Linked DNA regions of Homo sapiens: region 1 is linked to region 2. The links come from fine-mapping of genetic effects on gene expression. A gene starts in region 2. The other region holds a variant in brackets. All regions are shown on one strand. Distances are from middle to middle.

What was found. PIP is the estimated chance that this variant, and not a neighbour inherited with it, causes the effect.
Region 1: its variant is fine-mapped to the expression of TMEM219 in whole blood (TOPMed, PIP 0.98).

What each region holds. Positions count from the first base shown.
Region 1 is chr16:30,740,406-30,750,892 of GRCh38, forward strand. It overlaps TMEM265 (transmembrane protein 265), which reads left to right and starts at 237. Exons shown (of 3, transcript NM_001256829.2): 1 at 237-302; 2 at 1,336-1,503; 3 at 3,377-4,791. The coding sequence starts at 1,339. The coding sequence ends at 3,538. It overlaps PHKG2 (phosphorylase kinase catalytic subunit gamma 2), which reads left to right and starts at 8,020. Exons shown (of 10, transcript NM_000294.3): 1 at 8,020-8,085; 2 at 8,398-8,510. The coding sequence starts at 8,416. SRCAP (Snf2 related CREBBP activator protein) reads left to right here. Exons shown (of 34, transcript NM_006662.3): 34 at 1-1,004. RefSeq lists an enhancer at 525-1,724 and silencers at 7,767-8,066, 8,107-8,246. The variant TATATC/T (reference allele first, on the strand shown) is at 4,514.
Region 2 is chr16:29,952,729-29,968,857 of GRCh38, forward strand. TMEM219 (transmembrane protein 219) reads left to right here and starts at 9,351. Exons shown (of 6, transcript NM_001083613.2): 1 at 9,351-9,404; 2 at 10,379-10,580; 3 at 10,672-10,861; 4 at 15,297-15,526. The coding sequence starts at 10,416. RefSeq lists an enhancer at 8,724-8,833 and a silencer at 9,184-9,633.

The sequences.
Region 1 (10,487 bases), 780 kb after region 2:
CCTCAGACCTTTCCCTTTTATCCCTCTTGCTCAGGTGCTTCCTTTCACAACTTTTTCCAGAGGGCAGGCGTCCTAGCTCCAGTTGCTCCATCCCTTGGGCCCTCCCCTGCTCTTCATCTAGCCAAACTGGTTTGAGTCAGCCACACCCCTTCCCAGCTCCCTGGGCTCTTCACGTGGTGGCTGGCCACTCAACCCCACCCCTGGGCTTGGCTTGGAGCCCTGAGTCAGCTCCATCACCACCCAAGCCAAACCAAAGCTGAGGCAGGAGCCGAAACTCAGAGTCCTTCAAGGCCTATAGCCAGGTAAGAGCCCTGTTCATTTTTACATTCTCTGTTCACTCCCTGGGCCCTCCTTGTGTCCTCCTGTTGACTCTGTGCTTACCTCATCTGAGTTATTTCTTTGTATCTACTTCCCTGCAGCTTCTTGGCACACATCATTCTTTGCTCTCTACTTGTCTCGCCCCTTTCACCTTTCCTATCCTTCGTTACTTGGGTTCAGGGAGCCAAGGTGGTTTCATTTTGTCTGGGTTGTAGGGGAATGGTTGGAGATAAGGGTAGAAAGGTGGTTTGATGCCAGGGCCTAGAGGACCTGAGAAGTAGGGAGACAAGAAATGATTAAGTAGGGCATCATTTTGCAGGTTTCTGTGTGGTAATGAGGTCATTTAGACTCAGTGTACTAGTCTGATTGTGTTATGTGGCCTGGGTTAAATTGGAGAGAGGAGGTGGCAGGGAGGCAGCATAGCAGAGGAAGCCCTGACTTAGGGAAGTAAAGTCTTTCTGATGTTTGGTTTTAGTGGTAATAAAGGGCTTACTTGGGTACATTTTCCTTACCTTTCTCCATTCCCATAACTGTTTTCATGTAAAATGGCTGCTTTGCTTGAAACGGGTTGCAGTACCTAGGGTCCTGCTCTCTGACATCTATAATACTCAGGGGGCAGCCTCTTGGGAATTTGGGGGAATTGTAGAGTCCTTTGAAATACAGATTAAAATAACAGATTCATAGCAGCTTTCAAGAGTTTGTATTTTTCCTCCTTCTCGGTGTGCACCTGTCATTTGGCTTCTTCCCACTTGTTGAAACACTAAATAATACAGATAATGCCTTGTCTACACTGGCTTGCTTTCAAAGACTCAGAACCTCAAGCTTAGGTAAAAGGATTCCAGCCACACATTTCCTCTCCTGCTCTGTGAGTCACTAGAGGAATTCCCCAGTAAGGCAACATTCCTGAGTGCCAGGCTAGGCCATGAGAACAGAATGCTCTGAGAGGGGTGGAGTCTGAGCAAGCAAGGCCAAGGGCTCTGTTGTTGGGCTCACAAGTACCTTGACTATCGCCCACAGGTGATGGAGGACGAGGAGAAGGCAGTGGAGATCTTGGGCAACACGGAAGCTGCTCATCCTCCATCCCCCATCCGCTGCTGCTGGCTCCGCCTCCGCTGCTTGGCAGCTACTAGCATTATCTGTGGCTGCTCTTGCCTGGGAGTCATGGCTCTGGTGTTTGCCATCAAGGTGAGGAGTGCAATTCCCATGGGAATGGGGGTGGGTATAAGGCAATGGTTTCATGTATCTGATCTATCTACATTGACCAGTCACTGAATACCTATCAGTGCTCTGGGCCTAGTGCCAGAAATAAGAATAAGACAGGGTTCCTTGTCGTCAGAGGACCCATAATCTAATGAAAGAGGTGACAGTGAAAATGGGTAATTAATAGAATGCAGTTCATCAGTACCGTAATACAGGAAGCACAGGACAGTGTGGGAGCCAGGGAAGATCTATGTATGTAATTATATATGTGTATATGGTAGAATAGGTGACTGGAAAGGCATCCTAGGAGAGGTGACAGGATTAATCTTAAAGGGTGAGTGAGTAAGTGTGGAAGGGCATTCCAGATAAAAGGAGCAGTGTGTACAAAGGCCTGTGGAGCATGACTGGACCAGTGAGGAATAGTGAGAGATGAAGCTAGAGGACCCAGATTCCCAAGGGCCTCCAGTTCTGTGCTTAAGAGTTTTGACTTTATCTTGAAAGTACTGGGGAGGCATTGAATGGCTCCTGCAGGGGAAAGTGACATGGTCAGATTTGAGTTTTAGGAAGATCCACTCTCAAGGCCTACATCGAGGGTGAATTGGAGGGGGCAAGGCTGGAGGCCGCTGAACGGTGATGAGCGCAATCTCTAGGAGTCTGAAAGACACTTGGGTTTTTGAGAGGGCTTCACCATTTCAAAAAGCCTATTAGAAACAGCACATGTCCGCCGGGCGTGGTGACTTAGGCCTGTAATCCCAGCACTTTGGGAGGCCGAGGTGGGCAGATCACGAGGTTAGGAGATCGAGACCATCTAGGCCAACATGGTAAAACCCCGTCTCTACTAAAAATACAAAAATTAGCTGGGCGTGATGGTGCGTGCCTGTAATCCCAGCTACTGGGGAGGCTGAGGCAGGATCATTGCTTGAACCACGGAGTCGGAGGTTGCATTGAGCTGAGATCATGCCACTGCACTCCAGCCTGGTGACAAAGCAAGACTCTGTCTCAAAAAAAAAAAAAAACAAAAAAAAACAGCACATGTCCTTTAGGAAAGGCTACACAGGCTAACTTAAACTTCATGCTGGAATCTTCTCAACCCTAGACATATTTTAACAGTCAGAAACTGTAAGAACTCCTGGGTTCCATTAGGGCAAAATCCTAAAAAGGGCCCTTAATGATAACAAAGAGGCTGGGCGCAGTGGCTCACGCCTGTAATCCCAGCACTTTGGGAGGCCGAGGTGGGCAGATCACTTGAGGTCAGGAGTTCGAGACCAGCCTGACCAACATGGTGAAACCCCGTCTCTACTAAAAATACAAAATTAGCTGGGCGTGGTGGCACGTACCTGTTATCCCATCTATTTGGGAGGCTGAGACACGAGAATTGCTTGAACCTGGGAGGAGGAGGTTGCAGTGAGATTGCACCACTGCACTCCAGCCTGGGTGACAGGAGTGAAACTGTCTCAAAAAAAGAAAAAAAAAAGATGGAAAAGATGAGGCCCATTGGGCTATGAGAATGAGGTGGTGTTTGGGCATGAGTGAAGTTACTCTAGCCTCACTGTTTCTTGCCAATAGTTACAAATTCTGAATCAATCTTGGATAGTTGGAAAGAATGGGGAATAACAGAATTGGAAAGTACTTTCCCATAGGCGATCTTGTGAGCTATGGCCACCCTGAGAAGTAGGCAGGGCCCAGAGATGGGTACCTTATTTTGCAGATGAGAGGTTAGAATCAGAAACTGGAAAGGGAGGTAGAGGGTTTGGATGTGAGATTTTGATCCGTGACAGGGAAGGGGGAGCGGAGTGGGGAAATGGGCACCTTGGGGCAGAAGCAGGGGGAGAACCTAACCAAGAACCTGCCCCCACAGGCGGAAGAGCGGCATAAAGCAGGCCGGTCCGAGGAGGCAGTGCGCTGGGGGGCCCGGGCCCGGAAACTCATCCTGGCCAGCTTTGCTGTCTGGCTTGCTGTCCTCATTCTGGGTCCCCTGCTGCTGTGGTTGCTCTCCTACGCCATCGCTCAGGCTGAGTGACCCTGGATGGCCTCTGCTGAGAGCCAGCCGAGACCTCCTGGATCCTGCAATGCGGCATTGCTAAGGTCCTGTGACAGCAGTGGTTGGAAGGATCCTGGTTGGAAGGATGGGGACTCTCTCAAGGGGCTTTGGAAGAGCTCTTCTAGCCCTTTATAAAAGGAGGGCAGCAGCTGAGACTGATGAGAGGAGGGCAGCCTGCTCTGTTCTTTCAGGGCCCCCCACCCCCATCTCCCCTACCCTAGCCCACCCTAGGGCCTCTACCCAGCGGGAGGGGTTGAAGACCAGGCCTGGTTTTATTAGAATTCATTTTGTAATAAAAGCCTTTTTTAGTGGTGAAATACTCCTGTCTAATTGTTCTCCTCCTGCTTTCCCTTGGGCCCTTGGTGAGAGCCAGACTGGACATCTGACTGATAGCAGAAGCCAGCATCCACCTCATCCAGGAGCTCCAAGAGAAGGAAACAATTTTTATTTTCTTCTTCTGGAAGTTTCCCTTCTTGGAAAGACCCCAGCTTCTCCCTTGTACGTCCACAGAGACTCTGAGGCCAAGAGTAGTAGCAGCTGCTACTATTTATTACTTACTATATTCCAGGCTGTGTTCTAAGCACTTTATATTTCTTAACTTCCTCCAGTTTTCAGTCACTCAGTAGATGTCTGTACTATCATATCCATCATATGAATATATCACATATGATAGGTACCAACTATCTGAGTGAAAACTGGAAGAAATGTTCTAAAATGACAGTGTTCTCGTTTTATACTTGAAGAAACAAACAGATTTGCACAAGGTCCTCAGCTACTAAATGGTAGAGCTGAGACTGAACCCAGACAGTTTGGTTCCAGAGCTGAGAGAGGAGTGAAAGAGTTGGGTAACAGCAACAACCATCCTGTACATGGAGATTTGAGTGATTAAAATGGATTTTCATATCTTTTATCTTGGACCTCATAATATTTCAAATTTTTTTTAAAATTATGAAG[TATATC/T]ATACATATAGGAAAATACCCAAAACAAGTATACAGTTCATTAACACAAAGCAAACGTGAATAACCACATTCAGTAAAGAAATTGGAACACTGTCAACACTTCAAAGCCTCCTTTATACTCCTCCCAATCACTGCTACTTCCTTTCTTCCCACAGGTAACCACCATTCTGACTTCTAGCAGTGTCATTTAATTTTGTCTGCATTTGAACTTTATATAAATGGAATCATGTATTCTTTTCATGTTAACATTGTGAGATTCGTCAATATTTGGAATAGGTGTAGTTTTCATTGCTGTGTAGTATTCAGTCATATGAATGTATCACAATTTGTCCATTTACTGTTGGTGGACTTTGGGATGTTTGCAGTTTGGGGTTATTATGAGTCATGCCTTTTGGAGTACGTCTGTCCTGGCAAGCACCTTACCATAATTCAGAGTCCAGAAGAGCACCTAAAGGAACTGGAGATGTTGCACACTGAAGAGACTAGAGGGGAAGGAGAGGCACATGATGGCTGTCCTCAGTGTTCCCAAATGCTCCAGGAAGAAGGAAGAGAATAGATTGGTGGTCTCAGAAGTTAGAATTGAAACAGTGGGTAGAAGATAAATATACAGGGCAGTGTTCTCAACATAGCTTCACAGTGGAACCACCTGGAAGCTTTAAAAAGTAGTTAGGCCTGGGCTTTATCCAGACTACATTCTGACTTAATCGGTGTGAGGTACAGCCTTGGCATCAGGATTTCTCAGTTTCCCAATTAATTGTAGTACACATAGTTTGAGAACTACTGCTCTATAGATAAGATTTTATTGTATTCCCTCTGCAATTTCTAAATCAGGAAAAAAGGGTAACACATTTTAGAAAGTGTTTTTGTTTTTTTGTTTGTTTGTTTTGAGAAGGAGTCTCGCTCTGTTGCCCAGGCTGGAGTGCAGTGGCACAATCTCTGCTCACTGCAAGCTCTGCCTCCTGGGTTCACACCATTCTCCTGTCTCAGCCTCCCAAGTAGTTGGGACTACAGGCGCCCGCCACCATGCCCGGCTAATTTTTTGTATTTTTAGTAGACGGGATTTCACCGTGTTAGCCAGGATGGTCTTGATCTCCTGACCTCGTGATCCGCCCACCTCGGCCTCCCAAAGTGCTGGGATTACAGGCATGAGCCACTGCACCTGGCCTGTTCTTTGTTTTTTTTTTTTTTTTTAACTCTTAAGTTCTGGGATACAAGCAGAACATGCAGGTTCGCTACGTAGGTATACATGTGCCATGGTGGTTTGCTTCACCCATCAACCTGTCATCTAGGTTTTAAGCCACCATGCCCTGCTAATTTTCGTATTTTTAGTATAGACGGGGTTTCACCATGTTGGCCAGGATGGTCTCGATCTCTTGACCTCGTGGTCCACCCGCCTCGGCCTCCCAAAGTGCTGGGATTACAGGTGTGATCCACCGCGCCCGGCCCAACGCATAGATCTTAAGTGTGCAGCTTGATTATTATTATTTTTTTTTGAGATGGAGTCTCGCTCTGTCACCCAGGCTGAAGTGCAGTGGTGTGATCTCACTGCAACCTCTGCCTTCTGGGTTCAAGTGATTCTCCTGCCTCAGCCTCCTGAGTAGCTAGGATTACAGGCGTGTGCCACCACGCCCGGCTAATTTTTGTATTTTTAGTAGAAATGGGATTTCACCATTTGGTCAGGCTGGTCTCGACCTGACCTTGTGATCCACCCACCTCAGCCTCCCAAAGTGCTGGTATTACACGCGTGAGTTAACCGTGCCTAGCCGACGAATGTTTTAACGTAAATAAACCTGTGTAGTCAGTCACTCACCACCTATAGGAATATAACATTTGCAGCACATCAGCAAGTTCCCTCATGCTCTTCATTATTATTTTTATCCCCGATATTGACCTATGGAAACCCTTTCAATCTGGTTCCTGTGTCCTTGTGATAAGCCCCGCTCATTAGTAATGTCTGGCACAAATCACTCCAGACTCACCTTGTACTTTCCCTGCTGAAGCCTAGAAATTGGCCATTTCTCCTGAAAAGACTTAGTTCCTTTTATTGGGTACTGTTATTGAGAAATCAGCATCTAGACACTAGGCGTTCTACTGGGAAGTTACTGCTTAGGGCATTCTGAAAGCAGAGGTAAGAGCCAGTAAATAGTTAATGTTATCTACTTTACATCTTTTAAAAATCTTTTTAAAAATTCCAGTCAATCATAGGGTTCTTTCTCCACTTTCCCCATTCCAGATTCCAGATTCCAGATTCCCACAGTTAAGAACCTTGGCTTCCAGTCACATCAATATATTGATTACTCAGCTTCAGAATTATTATCCTGTTATATTACCAAACAACAAATCTAAGTAAAGTTCAAGATTTTTTGCAATTTTGCCTTTAGATTGATGGTATAGAGTCATAGTACTCTATAAAAAGTTACCTGAATTCATTTTTCTTCCCTCATAATTGTAATCCCAAAGTGTCATTTCTAAGATAGCTGTAGGGAGATAAGTTAATTCTTTTCCTCTTTGGCTGGAACATAACCTCCACAGGGTAGGGGTGTGTGTGTTGTTTCATTGCTCTCAGTCTAGTTCCTAGGTCTTAGACGGTCATAAAAATTTGTTAGTGAATGCCAGGTTTGAGCTATGCACTGAGTCACTCCTGGCAGAATCTAACAACCTGGTGGGTTTAGAACAGAGTGTGATACAAGGCTTTTGGGAGAGGGTGGAAGATTGAGAAAGTGTGTAAATCCCAGATAGTAAACGCTAGGGCTTTGGATGTATTTAGGAGGAGTTGAAGCGGACACAGAAAAGGCTTCCTCTGGCATTTTAAGTCCGAACTAAGAGGCCAAGCTGGAGTCCAAGCTGCGTGTGTCCAAATGTTTTAAGGGCTGGAGTGTACTCAGGACAGGCGCTTTGGGCCAGGCTGCTAATATTGAAAAGAGCTTGCTGGGCGTTGTGGCTCAAGCCTGTAATCCCAGCATTTTGGGAGGCTGAGGCGGGAGGATCGCTTGAGCCCCGAAGTTCAAGGCTGCAGTGAGCTATGATCGCGCCACTACACTGCAGCCTCAGCGTGGGCTACAGAGCGAGACCCTGTCTGAAAAAAGAGAAAATGCTGAATTCAGTTAGGGATGCTTGGAGGAGACCGAGGGAACCCTGCTCAAGTCTGGGAACTAGAGGCGCGGGAAGGTCCTGCTTCCCCGCCACCCAGAGATCACGTTTCCCAGTAAACCCAACTTCCGGGTCCCATTCCAGGCCTCCAAGCCCACGTGACAACAAGCTCCGCCCTCTGCTGTCCCGCAGATGCCACTCGGTGATTGGCCGCGTCTGAAGCCGCGCCCCGGCGTCGCGTTGCAGCCTTAGGTCCAGCCGAGCGCCGACTCACGCCCCAGCCCCAATTGGGCGGCCGGTTTCCAATTGGAAGGGCTTCTGAGCCTCAGTCTTCGGGCGGCGCTGACCATTGGCGGGCAGGATGGAGGCGGAGCCTTGGGTTGTCGCCCGCCGCCGGGGGTTAAGGTGAGCGACTGCAGGCAAACCCGGCGACAGCGCAGCTCGCGTCGACCCTGGCTCCTCTGCCTGCCCCCTCAGGTGAGCCTGCGCTAGACCCCCGTCCCCTTCCTGCGCCCGCCCGAATGCGCCTGCGCGGCAACAGCCGCCTGCCCTTGCGCCCCTTCCCCCTGCCTCCTGGGCACATCTCCCCACTCCCCTCCCTGCCCTGCCATCCTCCCGCCCCCAGGCTCTTCTGCGGGGTCTCCCCAGTCCGGGTCCTTCCCCCACCCCCCCCCACCCCCCAGGACCCTGGCGCCCCAGCTGCAAGGGCTGCGCCCCCGGGAGCCGCCATGCGGGTCGTCTCAGAGCCTGTGGGCCTCCCTGCCCTCACTGCCCTCCTCCTCCGCGCAGGCCCCCGCCTCCTTCAGGATGACGCTGGACGTGGGGCCGGAGGATGAGCTGCCCGACTGGGCCGCCGCCAAAGAGTTTTACCAGAAGTACGACCCTAAGGACGTCATCGGCAGGTAAGGCCGCGGCCAGGGAAACGGAGGTCCAAAGAGGTCGAGCCCCAGCATTCCCGCTTCCGTTTGAAGGCTGGAGAGTTCGCGGGTGGTGGTGGTGGTGGTGGTGGTGGTGGTGGTGGTGGTGGTGGTGGTGGTGGTGGTGGTGGTGGTGGTGGTGGTGGTGGTGGTGGTGGTGCTGCTGCTGCTGCTGCTGCTGGTGGTGCTGGTGCTGGTGGTGGTGGTGCTGGTGCTGGTGGTGGTGCTGGTGGTGGTGGTGCTGGTGGTGGTGCTGGTGGTGGTGCTGGTGGTGGTGTGTGTGTGTGTGTGTGTCTTTCGGTGGTGGTGGTGCTGGTGCTGGTGGTGCTGGTGGTGGTGGTGTGTGTGTCTGTGTGTGTGTGTGTGTCTTTCAAGTTCAGGTTTTCTCAGGAGAAGACTGGATAGTTGGTTTTGTTTGTTTGTTTGTTTGTTTTTGAGACGGAGTCTCGCTCTGTCGCCCAGGCCGGAATGCAGTGGCGCGATCTCGGCTCACTACAACCTCTGCCTCCTGGGTTCAAGTGATTCTCCTGCCTCAGCCTCCCGAGTAGCTGGGATTACAGGCGCGCGCCACCACGCCGGCTAATTTATATTTTTAGTAGAGGCGGGCGTTTCACCATATTGGCCACGCTGGTCTTGAACTCCTGATCTCGTGATCTGCCCGCCTCAGCCTCCCAAAGTGCTGGGATTACAGGCGTGAGCCACCGCGCCTGGTTGACTGAATAGTTCTAAATGGGAAGAATCAGTGATCAGTGGAGAACACCTAGTGACTAGACTCTTACCTTGGGTCAACCCCATTTTTTCACGGATTCATTCATTTATGCCTTCAACACAAAGCTCAACACGGGGAGGGCAGAAAAGATGCGTATGCCCTGGAGGTACTCCACCCGAAGTGACTGAAATTGGCACGTGAACGTTAAAAAGGCATCAGGCTAGATAGGTAGAGGTCTGTATCAAGTGCTATGGGATTCCAGAAAAGCACACCTTCTCAGGAGGAGTCACCTTTGGGCTGGGTCTTGAGGTATGAGTAGGAGTTCAGGGGGGGGTCTTTAAAATCGCAAAAATGTATGCGTGTGGTAGATGTCTCCAGCTTTCATCAGATTCTCAAAGAGGCTCATTAAAGCTGGGTCATAATTAAAACATGGCCTCAAACTCAGATGCCCTTAGTGGTTGCGCAGGAAATTGAAACTGTGAAGTGGCCAAGAGTAAGAGAGTAGGAAGTGTTGTGGAAGGTGGAGGGTTTTGCCCCACCTATGATGTATGAATTCAGATTTGTGTAAAAAAATAAAAAAAAAATTGCACCGGCCAAAACGTAACACATCTGAGGGCTGTGTTTGGCCTGTGGATCAATAGTTTACATCCCTTGATTTAACTAGATGTGGGTGGCCGAATTCCCAAGTGAGTTATGTGAGGCCAAGGAGGCCCCAGAGAGCATAACAGTAAGGCTCTGCGAAGGGCAGCCAGGGAACCAGGATAAGAAACAGGATTTGAGGCTGGATCCTGGAGGGATTTGCTCCTTAGTCTGAGGAATGTGTAGGGTCATATGGAGTTGGTGATAGCCTGAGCAAGGAAATCCTTGTCTAGGACTTTGTGTGTGCCTCATGAATGCCCTTCAACATCCCTTCAGGATGCTGTTGGCTGCATTTCACAGCTGAAGTCCAAGAACCTTATGTCAGGGGACCACTTAGGTTAATTGGTAGCAAATCTGGGGTCTGCACTAAGATCTAATTTTCAGCTTTGGTCTTCTAGTCAATGGCTTCCTACTTATTTGGAGCTTCCTACACTTGAGGGAACTTTGGGATTTGGATGGGGTAATCAGGCAAGTGTAAGTGGAATATAGAGGGAGACTTAGATCTTTCTTTCCCCTTCCTGCAAGGAACAGGTGCTGAGGCTCAGTGTGGGAAGGACTTGCCTAGGCTTTCCCATGGAGGAAGTGGCAGAGCCTGGATTTGAACCCAGGCCCTA
Region 2 (16,129 bases):
GTGCCTCTTTCAGTGATATGAAGTTAAAATCAGCTACTGTGACCACTCACCTGATTTTTGGTTCTTATGATGGTTCTGAGGAGGCTTCTATTCTGCCATCTTGCTCTGACTTCCCACTACATTGTGTTTTGTTTGTTTGTTTGTTTTTGACATTCACTCTGTCACCTAGGCCGGAGTGCAGTGGCCAAATCTGGGCTCACTACAACCTCTGTCTCCCAGGTTCAAGCAATTCTCGTGCCTCAGCCTCCTGAGTACCTGGGATTACAGGCGCTTGCCCCCACTCCGGCTAAATTTTTGTATTTTTAGATGGGGTCTCACCATGTTGCCCAGGATGGTATTGAACTCCTGGCCTCAAGCGATCCTCCCGCCTCAGCCTCCCAAAGTGCTGGGATTACAGGCATGAGCCACCACGCTTGGCCCCCCTACAGTTTTTGTTTGGTTGTTTGTTTGAGACAGAGTCTAGCTCTATCCCCCAGGCTGGAGTGCAGTGGCGAAATCTTGTCTCACTGCAACCTCCGCCTCCGGGGTTCAAGCGATTCTCCTGCCTCAGCCTACCGAGTAGCTGGGATTATAAGCACTCGCCACCCAGTTAATTTTTGTATTTTTAGTAGAGATGGGGTTTCGCCATGTTGACCAGGCTGGTCTCCAACTCCTGACCTCAGGTGATCCACCCACCTTGGCCTCCCAAAGTGCTGGGATTACAGGCGTGAGCCACTGCACCCAGCCCCTACACTGTTTTGATTATGATAGCTTTGTAGTAAGTTTTAAAATCAGGAAATTGAGTCCTTCAACTTTTTTTCAAGACCATTTTGGTATTCAGGGTCCCTTGAGATTCTGTATGAATTTTAGGATGGGTTTTTCTGTTCCACTGCCCTCCAGCCTGGGTGACAGAGCGAGACTCCATCTCAAAAACAAAAAAACAAAAAAAAAAATCATAGGGATTTGATATGATTTGTTAGGAATTTGCATTGAAACTGCAGATCGCTTTGGGTAGTATTGCCATCTTAACACTATTAAGTCCTTCAATCCATGAATGTGGGATGTTTTCTCTTTTGGGGGTCTTCTTTAATTTATTTCAGCAGTATATTGTAATTTTCAGTGTACAAATCTTTGAGCTCCTTGGTTAAATTTCTAAGTATTTTATTATTTTGATGCTATTGCAAAGGAAGTTATTATTTAAATTTCCTTTTCAAATTGTTTGCTGCAAGTGTATAAAATCTGAGTTGATTTTATGTCCTGCAACTTTGCTGAACTTAATTCTAAAATTTTTGTGTGGATTTCTTATGATTTTTCTATATATAATTATATAATCTGTGAAAAGAGATCCTTTTACTTCTTCCTTTCCAATGTGGAAGTCTTTTGTTTCTTCTTGGCGAATTGCTTTGCCTAGAACTTCTAGTACTTTGTTGAATAGAAGTGGTGAGAGCAGGCATCCTTGTCTTGTTCCTGGTCTGAGGGTACAAGCTTTTAGTCTTTCCCTGTAGAGTATGATGTTAGCTGTGGTTTACGGCCTTTATCATTTGGAGGACATTCCTGTCTATTTCTAGTTTATTGAGTGTTTTAATCATGAAAGGGGTTTGGCTGGGCGCAGTGGCTCACTCACGCCTGTAATCCCAGCACTTTGGGAGGCCGAGGCAGGCAGATCACCTGAGGTCAGAAGTTCGAGACCAGCCTGACCAACATGGAGAAACCCCATCTCTACTGAAATACAAAAAAATTAGCCGGGTGTGGTGGCGCTTCCCTATAATCCCAGCTACTCCAGAGGCTGAGGCAGGAGAATTGTTTGAACCTGGGAGGCAGAGGCTGTGGTGAGCCGAGATCACGCCATTGCACTCCAGCCTGGGCAACAAGAGTGAAACTCCGTCTCAAAATAAATAAATAAATAAATAAATAAATAAATAAATAAATAAATAAATAAAATCATGAAAGGGTGTTCATTTTTTCAAAGCCTTTTCTGCATCAATTGAGATGACCATGTGTTTTCTCCCCGGTTCATTCTATTAATGTGGTGTATTACATTGATTTTTTTCTTTTTTTTAAGACAGAGTCTTGCTCTGTCGCCCAGGCTGGAGTGCAGTGGCTTGATCTCAGCTCACTGCAACATCTGCCTCCCAGGTTCAAGTGATTCTCTTGCCTCAGCCTCCCAAGTAACTGGTATTATAGGCACCTGCCATCATGCATGGCTAATTTTTGTATTTTTAGTAGAGACGGGGTTTCACCATGTTGGGCAGGCTTCTCTCAAACTCCTGACCTCAGGTGGTCTGGCTGCCTCGGCCTCCCAAAGTGCTGGGATTACAGGTGTGAGCCACTGCACCCAGCCACACTTTGCATATTTTGAAGTGCATCTATTTACTTAGCATTCGTGACTTGAATAATTTCACCAAATGAATAATTTTGGGTAGTTTGAAATTCGTTCTTCCAATTGTTACACCTTGTTTGGTGTTTGTAATAAACACGTAAAGGTAAAAAAAAACAGTTTTTCTGTATTCTGCCAATCATACTTTTATATAATAAATCATCCATTTTTTTCCCATAAAAAAAAAGAAAGTTATTGCTTAATGTTACAGAATTTCTGTTTGGAGTGATGAAAAAGTTTTGGAAATAGTAGTGACAGTTGCACAAAATTGTGAATGTAATTAATACCACTGAACTGTGCACTTAAAAATAGCTAAAATGGCCAGGTGCAGTGGCTCATGTCTGTAATCCCAGCACTTCCGGAGGCCAAGGCAGGTGGATCACCTGAGGTCAGGAGTTCAAGACCAGCCTGGCCAATACGGTGAAACCTCGTCTCTACTAAAAATACAAAAAATTAGCCAGGTGTAGTGGCAGACACCTGTAATCCCAGTTACTTGGGAGGCTGAGGCAGGAGAATCACTTGAACTCAGGAAGTGGAGGTTGCAGTGAGCCAAGATTGCACCATTGCATTCCAGCCTGGGCAACAGAGCGAGATCTGTCTCAAAAAAAAAAAAAAAAAGCTAAAATGGCAAGTTTTATATTATATATGTTGTTTACCACACACACACACACAAATACTAAGAAAAAAATCAGGCAGATCCTCTTCTAACAACACTTACAGTCTATTAAGTGAATCTGGGCATTTTAAAGAAAAAAATAACTATTTTTGGTTACGGAATCAGGATAGTAGTTGCCTATGGACACGGGCAGTGGGGACTGACTAGAAAGGGAAGGGAAGGAAGTTCTTGGACCTAGAAGTGTTTTATGTCTTGATTGGGGTGTTTAGATAGGCATTACATTTGTCAAAACTCATGAAATTTTATACTTTAAGATCTGTGCATTTCACTCTATGTAAATTTTACCTTAGTAAAAAACAAAACAGGCTGGGCGTGGTGGCTCACGCCTGTAATCCCAGCACTTTGGGAAGCCAAGGTGGGTGGATCACTTGTAGTCAGAGGTACGAGACCAGCCTAGCAACATGGTGAAACCCCATTTCTACTAAAAATACAAAAGAAATTAGCTGGGTGTGGTGGCAAGCGCCTGTTATCCCAGCTACTTAGGAGGTTGAGGCAGGAGAATCGCTTGAACCTGGGAGCTGGAGGTTGCAGTGAACTGAGATGGACCCACTGCACTCCAGCCTAGGTGACCGAGCGAGACTCCATCTCAAAACAAAACAAAACAAAAAATGTTAGCAACTTCTAATCCCTTGACAGTTTATATATACCGCAGTGATTTTCTCCCACTTCTCACTCACGTGGGATCTTATCATACAGAGGTTTTAAATTTTAAACAATTAAATTTATCAACCTTCTTCATTTATGGTTTCTATATTTGTGTGTCTTGCTTCAGAAAGTATCTCTTATTCCAGGTAATCATATTATCCTATTTTTAAATTCTATTTTGGAATAAATATTTCTTATTCCAGGCAATCATATTATTCTATTTTTTTTCTATATTTTTATTGTTCTTTCCTGTGTGGGACATGTAGCTGGTGGGCTAGCTGCAGACCACGGGCAAGTTTGCTAACATTGCTAAGTCTTGGTTTTCTCATCCATAAAATAGGGATAATAATTTGCTTTGTTATTGACATGATTTAATAAAGTAATATTTATTTGTTTATGTATTTATTTTAGAGACAGGGTCTTACTCTGTTACCTAGGCTGAAGTGCAGTGGCAATCTCGGTTCATTGCAGCTCAAGTGATCCTTCTGCCTTAGCCTCCAGAGTGGCTGGGACTACAGGTACTGGGACTACAGGATGGGACTACAGAGTGGCTGGGCATCCAGCTAACTTAAAAATTTTTTTGGGCTGGGTGCAGTGGTTCATGCCTGCAATCCCAGCACTTTGGGAGGCCGAAGAGGGATTAAGAGGTCAGGAATTTGAGACCAACCTGGCCAAGATGGTGAAACCCCGTCTCTACTGAAAATACAAAAATTAGCCGGGCGTGGTGGCAGGCACCTGCAGTCCCATCAGGAGGCTGAGGTGGGAGAATCGCTTGAACCCGGGAGGTGGAGGTGGCAGTGAGCCGAGATTGCGCCATTGCACTCCAGCCTGGGCTACAAGAGTGAAACTCCACCTTAAAAAAAAAAAAAAAAAGCCGGGCGCGGTGGCTCACACCTGTAATCCCAGCACTTTGGGAGGCCGAGGCGGGCAGATCACGAGGTCATGAGATCGAGACCACCCTGGCTAACATGGTGAAACCCTGTCTCTACTAAAAAATACAAAAAATTAGCTGGGTGTGGTGGCAGGCACCTGTAGTCCCAGCTACTTGGGAGACTGAGGCAGGAGAATGGTGTGAACCCAGGAGGCGGAGCTTGCAGTGAGCAGAGATCATGCCACCGCACTCCAGCATGGGCAACAGAGCGAGACTCCGTCTCAAAAAAAAATTTTTTTTTGGCCAGTCACGATGTGTCACACCTGTAATCCTAGCACTTAGGGAGGCCAAGGCGGGTGGATCACTTGAGGTCAGGAGTTTGAGACCAGCCTGGCCAACATGGTGAAACCCCGTCTCTACTAAAAATACAAAAATTAGCCAGGGACAGTGGCATGCCTCTGTAATCCCAGCTACTCAGGAGACTGAGGCAGGAGAATCACTTGAACCCAGGAGTTGGAGGTTGCAGCGAGCCGAGATCACACCACTTCACTCCAGTCTGGGCGACAGAGCAAGACTCCATCTCAAAAAAAAAAAGTCTAGATGGGGCCGGGCAGGGTGGCTCACACCTGTAATCCCAGCACTTTGGGAGTCTGAGGCGGGTAGACGGCTTGAGCTCAGGAGTTCGAGACCAGACTGCACAACATGGTGAGACCCCGTCTCTACTAAAAATACAAAAAGAGAGAAAAAAAAATAGCTTGGCATGGTGGTGCACACTTGTGGTCCCAGCTACTTGGGCGGATGAAGTGGGAGGATTGCTTGAGCATGGTGAGGAGGGAGGTTGCACTGAGCCAAGATTGCGCCACTGCCCACCAGCCTGGGTGACAGACCAAGACCCTGTCTCAAAAAAAAAAAGAAACAAAAAAAAGGTGGGGCTCACTGGCTCACACCTGTAATCCCAGCACTTTGGGAAGCTTAAGGTGGATGGATCACTTGAGGTCAGGAGTTCGAGACCAGCCTGGATGACATGGCAAAACCCTGTCTCTACTAAAAATACAAAAAAATTAGCTGGGCCTGGTGACGCACGCCTGTAGTCCCAGCTACTAGGGAGGCTGAGGCAGGACAATTGTTTGAACTCAGGAGGCAGAGGTTGCCGTGAGCTGAGATCGCACCACTGCACTCCAGCCTGGGTAACCAGAGTGAAACTCTGCCTCCAAAAAAAAAAAAGAAGAAGAAGAAAAAAGGTTTAGGCAAACATGCACTTTTCCTGTTGCTTTTTTTTTTTTTTTTGAGATGGAGTTTCGCTCTTGTTGTCCAGGCTGGAGTGCAATGGCGTGATCTCGGCTCACTGCAACCTCCGCCTCCTGGGTTCAAGCGATTCTCCTGCCTCAGCCTCCCAAGTAGCTGAGATTACAGGCATATGCCACCACGCCCGAATAATTTTGTATTTTTAGTAGAGATGGGGTTTCTCCATGTTGGTCAGACTAGTCTTGAACTCCCAACCTCAGGTGATCCTCCCGCCTCGGCCTCCCAAAGTGCTGGGGTTACAGGCATGAGCCACTGCGCCCAGCCTGAACATGCCAGATTGTAGTTCCAGGAGGCCAGAGATCATGAATACTTTGTCCACCACTATATTCCCAGCCCACAGAATACACAGCCTGGCAGCCAACAGATGCTTATTGAATGAACGAGCCTCAACAGGGCTTTCTCATTCCCACATGCCATGCTGTGGTCAGGCTTAAATCATAACCCAACTTCTGCCACCTAATATATGTATGACCTTGGTTAAATTAAACCAGCAGTCCCCAACCTTTTTGGCACTGGGGACCAGTTTCATGGAAGACAATTTTTCCACCAGGGGAGGAATGGTTTCGGGATGATTCAAGCACATTACATTTATTTTGCACTTTATTTCTATTATTATTACATTATAAGGTATAATAAAATAATTATACAACTCATCATAAAGTAGAATCAGTGGGATCCCTGAGTTTGTTTTCCTGCAACTAGATAGTCCCATCTGATGTTGATGGGAGACAGTGAGAGATCATCAGGCATTAGATTCTCATAAGGAGCAACCTAGATCCCTCGCATGCGCAGTTCACAATAGGATTCATGCTCCTATGATAATCTAATGCCGCTACTGATCTGACAGGAAGCAGAGCTGAGGCGGTAATGCAGGCAATGGGGAGTAGCTGTAAATACAGATGAAGCTTCTCTCACCAGCCATTCACTTCCTGCTGTGCGGCTCAGTTCCTAACACGTCACGGACTGGTACTGGCCCCACGGCCCAGGGGTTGGGGACCCCTGACTTAAACTAAGGGCCAGCTTTCCAGAATAACATCCACTTTGAGGGCTTGTTGAGTGGATTAAGTCAAAATGTTGGTATACTTGGCTGGTGCGGTGGTTCACACCTGTAATCCCAGCACTTCGTGAGTCTGAGGCGGGTGGATCACCTGAGGTCAGGAATTTGAGACCAGCCTGGCCAACATGATGAAACCCCATCTCTACTAAAAATACAAAAAATTAGGCCGGGCGCGGTGGCTCACGCCTATAATCCTAGTACTTTGGGAGGCCAAGGCGGGTGGATCATTTGAGGTCAGGAGTTTGAGATCAGCCTGGCCAATATGGTGAAACCCTGTCTCTACTAATAAGTACAAAAATTAGTCAGGTGATAGTGGCGTGTGCCTGTAATCTCAGTTACTCGGGAGGCTGAGGCAGGAGAATCCCTTGAGCCTGAGAGGCAGAGGTTGAGGTGAGCTGAGATTGGGCTGTTGTTGAGTTGTAGGAGTTCTTTATATATTATAGATATTAACCCCTTATAAGATATATGATTTGATATTTCCTCTCATTCTGTTGGTTGCCTTTTCACTGTCCTTTCCTTTTTTTGTTTTTGTTTTTTGTGGGGCAGAGTTTTGATCTTTTGCCCAGGCTGGAGTGAAGTGGTGCAATCTCAGCTCACTGCAACCTCCACTCCCCAGGTTCAAGCGATTCTCCAGCCTTAGCCTCCGGAGTAGCTGGGATTATAGGCGCCCGGCACCATGCCTGGCTAATTTTGTACTTTTAGTAGAGATGGGGTTTCACCATGTTGGCCAGGCTGGTCTCAAACTCCTGACCTCAGGTGATCCACCCGCCTCGGCCTCCCAAAGTGCTAGGATTACAGGCTTGAGCCACCGTGCCCAGCCTGTTGTGTCCTTCGATGCACAGAAAAGACTCTTTTCTCTACTGAACGCCCACAGCACCCTTGTCAAAAATCATTTGACTAGTCAGGGCACAGTGGCTCACGCCTGTAATCCCAGCACTTTGGGAGGCCGAGGCGAGAGGACTGCTTGAGGTCAGGAGTTCGAGACATGCCTGGGCAACATGGCAAATGGCAAAACCCCGTCTCTACACACAATGCAAAAGTTAGCTGGGCATGGTGGGTGGCGTGTGACTACCGGCTGTCTCAACTACCCAGGAGGCTAAGGCGGGAGGATCTCTTGAGCCCAAGACGTCCAGACTGCAGCGAGCTTTGATTGTGCCACTGAACTCCAGCCTGGGCGATGACAGAGCAAGGCTCTGTCAAAAAAAAAAAAAAAAAAAAAAAAAAATCGGCCGGGTGTGGTGGTTCACGCTTGTAATCCCAGCACTTTGGGGGGCCGATGCGGGCAGACCACGAAGTCAAGAGATCAAGACCATCCCGGCCAACATGGTGAAACCTCGTCTCTACTAAAAATACAAAAATTAGCTGGGCGTGGTGGCGTGCGCCTGTAGTCCCAGCTACTCGGAAGGCTGAGGCAGAAGAATAGCTTGAATCCGGGAGGCGGAGGTTGCAGTGAGTCGAGATCGCGCCACTACACTCCAGCCTGGCGACAGACTGAGACCCCGTCTCAAAAAAAAAAAAAATCATTTGTATATGCGAAGGTTTTGTGCCACAAACTTTTGTGGCTGTTGATACAAACGACATGGCCTCTGCCTTAAGGAAGCCACAGTCGAATTAAATAGATTCCGTTTCAAGTAGCATCTGTCCTGTGTGCTTAGTGGGCACTGGGCCCATGTTTTCCCACATTTTACCCTTTAAGCTTCTGATCCAACCGGTGAGATAGATAGGATGATCCTCTTTAGTAGAGGGGTAAGCTTAGTCCCCTGAGAGCGCGGCTATGGCTTATGCGAGGGTACGGACAGTCAGGATTTGAACCCAAAGTTCCTGGCTCCATGTGTCATGCTACCTCCAGTCAGATGTTCTCACCTCCAAAACTTGGGCAGAAGTGAACTGAGATGCTCTCTACTGAGCAACTCTTCAGCTCCAGCATCCTATACATTAAGGAGTCACTAAAAGTCAGGGTCCACGAGAAAGGTGCAGATCGGGGTGCACAGAAGAGCGGAGTCCAAAACACCACTCCCAGCCCCAGTGGACAGAGTCCTCAAGTGGCAGCCCTGCAACTCTGAGCGGATGCCGAGTCCTCACCGGGAACCCGGGCGCGGCTGGTCTGTGCTATTGGCGCGGGTAGGGGACGCACAGCCCAAAAATGCCCGCGACAAGCTTCTGGGGCAGTTCTCGCCAGTCTCTCTGGAGGGAGCCTACGGGTTCTGCGACGTTTCTCGCACTTGCTCCCTGGCCTCGCTCCCGTTTCCACCCCTCCCACGGAGGTTTTCCTTTCTGGTGGCTCCTTCCTTGGGTGTCCCTTTGGTACGCCCCCACCCTGGCGGTGAGCTGCGAGGCTGGCGCCCGCGTGGCCACTGCGCATGCGGACCCGGCCGCGGGGCGGGGCCGCGCGAGGAGGAGGGTCGGGGACGGAAGCGCAGAGCACGGACCCCGCCCCCTCGCGGCCCCGCTCGTGACGTCGCGGGGGGCGCCGGCCTCCGCCCGGCCCCGAGGGGTAAGAGCGAGCGGCTGGCGGATCCGACGCGCGAGACCGGGAGGGGACGAGGGCGTTGCAATCGTTCGGGGCGGGGGCTTTCCGGGGAGGGGGTGCTCAGGTGCACCAGCGGCGGCGGACCCTCAGACTCTGCCCTCCCCTCCCTTTAACCCCCTTCCAGCCGGACGGGAGGCGGGGCAGGGCTGAGCATTTGTGACACCTACATTTCCGTGGCTCCCTTCTTTTCCCCCGACCCCTGTTTATCTCTTCGCCTTCCAGAAGTTCTTTTCCATCAGGCCGTCGCACCTTGCGTGGGAAGGAGCACCCCACTTGGAAGCAGGAGGCGGGGTTCAGATCTTGGCCCTACCCCTCCTGTGTTAAAGTCCGCGAGCCTCAGTTTCCCTCACAGTATTTTTTGCCTCGCCTTACCCGGTTTTGAGGATCTGTACGAGAAAGAGAAAGGAAGTGGACATTTGTTGAATTCCTGCATGGCCAAATACCACGCAGACTGCTTCATCCGCCACGTTTAATCCTTATTACTTGGTGTTCTCAGAACTCCCATTTCATGGATTCTTAAGCTCACAGAGTCAGTGAATAACAGAAAGGGATTCAGATCTAGCCGTTTAGCTGCACAGTGGAGTTCTTCTCCAGAGTCTTCCCTTGTCTGGGCTCTGGCTGGAACTATTCCTCAGCCAAATCCTCGCCCCAGAACAGTGCTTCCTGTTTCTCCAGCTGAGAAGTCTCCCTTTCAGTTTCCTTCTTCCAGCACGGAGTACACTGCTCTGCCTCCACTTAGATTACTTCAGAAATGAAATGCAGCAAATATTTATCCAGCAGTGCAGGGAGTTGAACTTTTGGAGTCGGGAACCTTGGATTCTTGTTCTGGCTCTGCCACTTACTGTGTGGCCTTGGGAAGTCCTTTGTCTTCTCTGAGCTTTCTTTTCTCTTTGCGTAAAAGCGGTGCTCTTGTCCCATTCTCCCTCCCTGTCTTCCAGCAGGCTCTCCCCGGAGGCTCAGCCCCCTCTGCTCCCCATGGGCAACTGCCAGGCAGGGCACAACCTGCACCTGTGTCTGGCCCACCACCCACCTCTGGTCTGTGCCACTTTGATCCTGCTGCTCCTTGGCCTCTCTGGCCTGGGCCTTGGCAGCTTCCTCCTCACCCACAGGACTGGCCTGCGCAGCCCTGACATCCCCCAGGTAAGTTCCCCACCCCCGTACCCGCTCTTCCTTCCAACCTAGACAGGCTTTTGCTGCTAATCTCATCTCACCCGTCTTCTTTTGCTCACAGGACTGGGTCTCTTTTTTGAGATCTTTTGGCCAGCTGACCCTGTGTCCCAGGAATGGGACAGTCACAGGGAAGTGGCGAGGGTCTCACGTCGTGGGCTTGCTGACCACCTTGAACTTCGGAGACGGTCCAGACAGGAACAAGACCCGGACATTCCAGGCCACAGTCCTGGGAAGTCAGATGGGATTGAAAGGTGAGATCAGAGGCTGGGTGTGGTGGCTCACGCCTGTAATCCCAACACTTTGGGAGGCTAAGGTAGGTGGATCATTTGAGGTCAGGAGTTCAAGACCAGCCTGGCCAACATGATGAAACACCATCTCTACTAAAAATACAAAAATTAGCCAGGCATGGTGGCAGGCGCCTCTAATCCCAACTACTCGGGAGGCTGAGGAAGGAGAATCGCTTGAACCCAGGAGATGGAGGTTGCAGTGAACCGAGATCGCACCATTGCACTCCAGCCTGGGTGACAGAGCAAGACTCTGTCTCAAAAAAAAAAAAAAAAAAAATCAGGTGCGGTGGCTCATGCCTGTAATCCCAGCACTTTGGGAGTCCGAGAAGGGCAGATCACGAGGTTAGGAGTTCGAGACCAGCCTGGCCAACATGGTGAAACCCCGTCTCTACTAGAAATACAAAAATTAACCTGGTGGTCTGGTTGCGGTGGCCCACAGCGGTAATCCCAGCAGTTTGGGAGGCCGAGGCGGGCAGATCATGAGGTCAGGAGTTTGAGTCCAGCCTGACCAACATGGTGAAACCCCATCTCTACTAAAAATACAAAAATTAGCCGGGCATGGTTGCACGTGCCTGTAATCCCAGCTACTCAGGAGGCTGAGGCAGGAGAATCACTTGAAGCCAGGAGGCGGAGGTTGCAGTGAGCCGAGATCGTACCACTGCACTCCATCCTGGGCAACAGAGCAAAACTCGGTCTCAAAAAAAAAAATTAGCCAGGCTTGGTGGTGCAAGCCTGTAGTTCCAGCTACTTGGGAGGCTGAGGCAGGAGAATTGCTTGAACCCGGGAGGTGGAGGTTGCAGTGAGCCAAGATCGTGCCACTGTACTCCAGCCTGGGAGACAGAGCAAGACTCCGTCTCAAACAAACAAACAAACAAAAATACAAAAAGTAGCCAGGTGTGGTGGCAGGTGCCTGTAGTCCCAGCTACTTGGGAGGCTGAGGCAGGAGAATCGCTTGAACCTGGGAGGCGGAGGTTGCAATAAGCAGAGATCACACCACTGCACTCTAGCCTGGGCAACAGAGACTCTGTCCCGCCCCGCGCCCCCCCCACCACCCTGCGCCAAAAAAAAAAAAGTAAGGTGAGATCACAGAGGACTGTGGGGTCGGGTATCAGAACACTCAGGGCTGGGCCCTGCCTCTGACCTCACCAATGATGACCTTGGGCACATCCCTGGACTTTAGTCACTTCTGTGATTAGGGCTTTCAGTGAACATGCTGCCGACAGGGTAGGTTTTCTATGAATGCTTTCTTCCTCTGCCAGTTCTGATGTTCTTTGAGTCTATCCTTGGAGGTAGGATGAAATGGGCTAGGTTTGACCTAATGTTTTCTCATCCTTTAGCCACCTCCTCCTAGAGGCCCCTTTTTCCTTAGCATAGTTCTGTATGCCACAAAAGATGCAGAAAAAAATTAGACACCATCAATTTCCAAAGAGCTATAGTCTTCTGGGAAAATGACAAGCGATAGGGAGAATGTGAAAATGTCAGTGGATGCCAATAATCCCTGTGTGACATTTGGCCTTATCTAAAATATGCTAAGATAAAGAGGGATGGAAGAGGGTGGTATTTTCTGACTTCTGAGGTCCTTTACAACACTATCATTCTAAGATTCTCCTGTGAGTATATATGTGTCGGGGGAGTGGGTCTCTGCATGTCCAGATGTACATGTATGTTAACAAAAATAAGGAATGTGTCCGATATATGCAGACTTGGGACAATTCTTTCCCATTCTTTTTACTTTTAAATAGATATATAATAGTTTTATTGAGATATGATTCATGTACCATACAATTCACCCATTGAAAGTGTACAGTTAGGGCCGGATGTGGTGGCTCATGCCTGTAATCCCAGCACTTTGGGAGGCCAAGGCAGGCAGATTGCTTGAGCGCAGGTGTTCGAGACCAGCCTGGACAAAATGGCAAGACTCTGTCTCTACTAAAAATACAAAAAAAAAAAAAAAAAAAAGCCAGGCGTGGTGGTGCACACCTGTGGTCCCAGCTACTTGGGAGGCTAAGGTGGGAGGATTGCTTATCCCTGGGAGGCAGGGCTTGCAGTAAACATTCTCCTGCCTCAGCCTCCTGAGTAGCTGGGATTACAGGTGCTCGCCATCACGCTCACCTAATTCCCGCCCCCCAGCCCAAGGAGTCTTGCTCTGTCACCCAGACTGGAGGGCAGTGATGCGATCTCAGCTCACTGAACCTCTGCCTCCCAGTTTCAGGAGATTCTCCTGCCTCAGTCTCCCAAGTAGCTGGGATTACAGGCATGTGGCACCATGCCCAGCTAATTTTTGTATTTTTAGTAGAGATGGGGTTTCACCATGTTGGCCAGGCTGGTCTTGAACTCCTGACCTCATGATCCGCCCGCCTTGGCCTCCCAAAGTGCTGGGATTACAGGTGTGAGCCACTGCGCCTGGCCAATTTTTGTATTTTTTATAGAGATGTGGTCTCACTATGTTGCCCAGGCTAGTTTCAAACTACTGGGCTCAAGTGATCCTCCTGCCTCACCTCCCAAAGTGCTGGGATTACAGGCATGAGCTACCGGGTCTGGCGTATTACCCAATTGTTTTATTTACTTTCTCTTGATTGCTAGTAAGGTTGAGCCTCTTATGGTTTATTGTCTGTATTCATGTTGCCTGTGAATTACCTGTTTGTTTCCTTTGTTCCTTTTTCTTTTAAGTTATTTGTCTTTTTCTTCTTGATTTGTAGGTCTTTATTCTAGATAGTAAACCTTTTGTCATTTAAATATATTATAGGTATTTTCAATATGTTACTTGTTTTTTTAACTTATCTTTCATTGCATAGAAGTCTTTAATTTTTATGAGGTTAGGTTTATCACTCTTGTCCTTTATTAAAACTTTTAGGTTTTGTGTCTTTCATAGGAAGCCCTTCCTCATTTTAAAATTAGAAAATATTCTGGCCAGGCGTGGTGGCTCATTCCTATAATCCCAGCCTTTGGAAGGCTGAGGCAGGTGGATCACCTGAGGTCAGGAGTTCAAGACTGGCCTGGCCAACATGATGAAACCCCGTCTCTACTAAAAATACAAAAAATTAGCCAGGCATGGTCGTGGGCACCTGTAATCCCAGCTACTCACAAGGCTGAGGCAGGAGAATTGCTTAAACCTAGGAGGTGGAGGTTGCAGTGAGCTGAGATTGCACCACTGCACTCCAGCCTGGGCAACAAGAGTGAAACTCTGTCTCAAAAATAATAAAATAAAATAAAATAAAATAAAATATTCTGTATTTTCTTTAAATACTTAAGTTTTTTTTTAGTTTGTATAGTTCTTTAATACATCTGAACTTTATTTTATAAGATAACAGTTTGACGCTATGTTTTTTTCTACATGGAAATTTTCCCAAGGCCATTTACTGAGGCCATCCTTTCCCCACTAATTTAAAATAGGGTGAGAACCTTTTAATGGATTTTGGTACCAAGTGAGAAACTGCTTTCTTAAAAAGAATGAACTAGTTTATGCAAACTGACATGGGCAATGTGTATCTGCCCATTTCACTGCAGCCTTGCGAGTATTAGTATGGTTGTTGTATTGATTGTAATTTAAGTTAATTTAAATTACAACTTAATTTGTGTTTATATTGATACAAAGTTATTTTCATTTCTCAGTGATATAAATAATGGTATATGGAATACTTTATTGAATAGAATCAATGCCAAAACACCTGGTATTATAGAAAGCCTTAAAAAATGACTAGGGGCAGGCGTGGTGGTTCATGCCTGGAATCCCAACATTTTGGGAGGTCAGGGTAGCAGGATGGCTTGAGCCCAGGAGTTTGAGTCCAGCCCGGGCAATACAGTGATACCCTGTCTCTACAAAAAAATTTTTTTAAATTAGCCAGGTAGGTGGCACACACTTGTAGCCCTGCCTACTCAGGAGACTGAGGTGGGAGGATCACTTGAGCCTAGGAGGTTGAGGCTCCCGTGAGCTGGGATCGTGCCACTGCACTCCAACCTGCACGACAAAGTGAGACCCCATCTCAAAAAAATAAAGAAAGAAAGAAAATACAAGAAAAGGGCCGGGCACGGTGGCTCACGCCTGTAATCCCAGCACTTTGGGAGGCCAAGGCGGGCGGATCACGAGGTCAGGAGATCAAGACCATCCTGGCTACCACAGTGAAACCCCGTCTCTACTAAAAATACAAAAAATTAGCTGGGCCTGGTGGTGGGCACCTGTAGTCCCAGCTACTCGGGAGACTGAGGCAGGAGAATGGTGTGAACCCGGGAGGCGGAGCTTGCAGTGAGCCGAGATTGCGCCACTGCACTCCAGCCTGGGTGATAGAGCGAGACTCCGCCTCAAAAAAAAAAAAAGAAAATACAAGAAAAGAAGCGTGAAGACAGAGGCTCCCGCGTCACCTCTCATTTTCTTCCATTTTCTCTTCTGTGCCTTTCACAGGATCTTCTGCAGGACAACTGGTCCTTATCACAGCCAGGGTGACCACAGAAAGGACTGCAGGAACCTGCCTATATTTTAGTGCTGTTCCAGGAATCCTACCCTCCAGCCAGCCACCCATATCCTGCTCAGAGGAGGGGGCTGGAAATGCCACCCTGAGCCCTAGAATGGGTGAGGAATGTGTTAGTGTCTGGAGCCATGAAGGCCTTGTGCTGACCAAGCTGCTCACCTCGGTAAGAGCCTCAGATGGGTCGCCAGGGTTTTGTAGACTGCCTGCTGACTACTGTATCTTGAAGGTCCCTGGAAACAATTCTACCTTGTAGAAAAAGCACAGGTTTTATAACCCTGCCTTGGGGGCTGTGTGACGTAGAACAAGTGTCTAAACATCTCTGAGTGTCAGCATCCTCATCTGTAAAACAGAAAACATGACCCTATCTCTTAATTCCATCAAATAAGGATTAAATGAGAATGACCGTGAAGTGCCCAGCACATTGCCTGGGACATAGAGATTTGATAAGTGACAGCTATTGTTGTTTACTATTGTCTTTAAAACATTCTCTCTACTTCAAAGGAGTTCAGAAGCTATAATAAGAGGCAAATGGGCTAATTGCTATTAGAGAGATGTGAGCAAAGTGTTATGCAAACACAGAGAAAGGAGCCATTAACCCTAACTTGAACATTTATGGAGAGTGCATCACAGAGAAGGTGGCATTTACCAGAGAGCATTGTGCACAGTGGTTTATAATGCACAAAGTGCTCTCAGGGTTCATTAATTCATTTGATCTTAAAATAGCCTTTTGAGGTAGGTGTTATTATCCCATTTTACAGATGAGGAA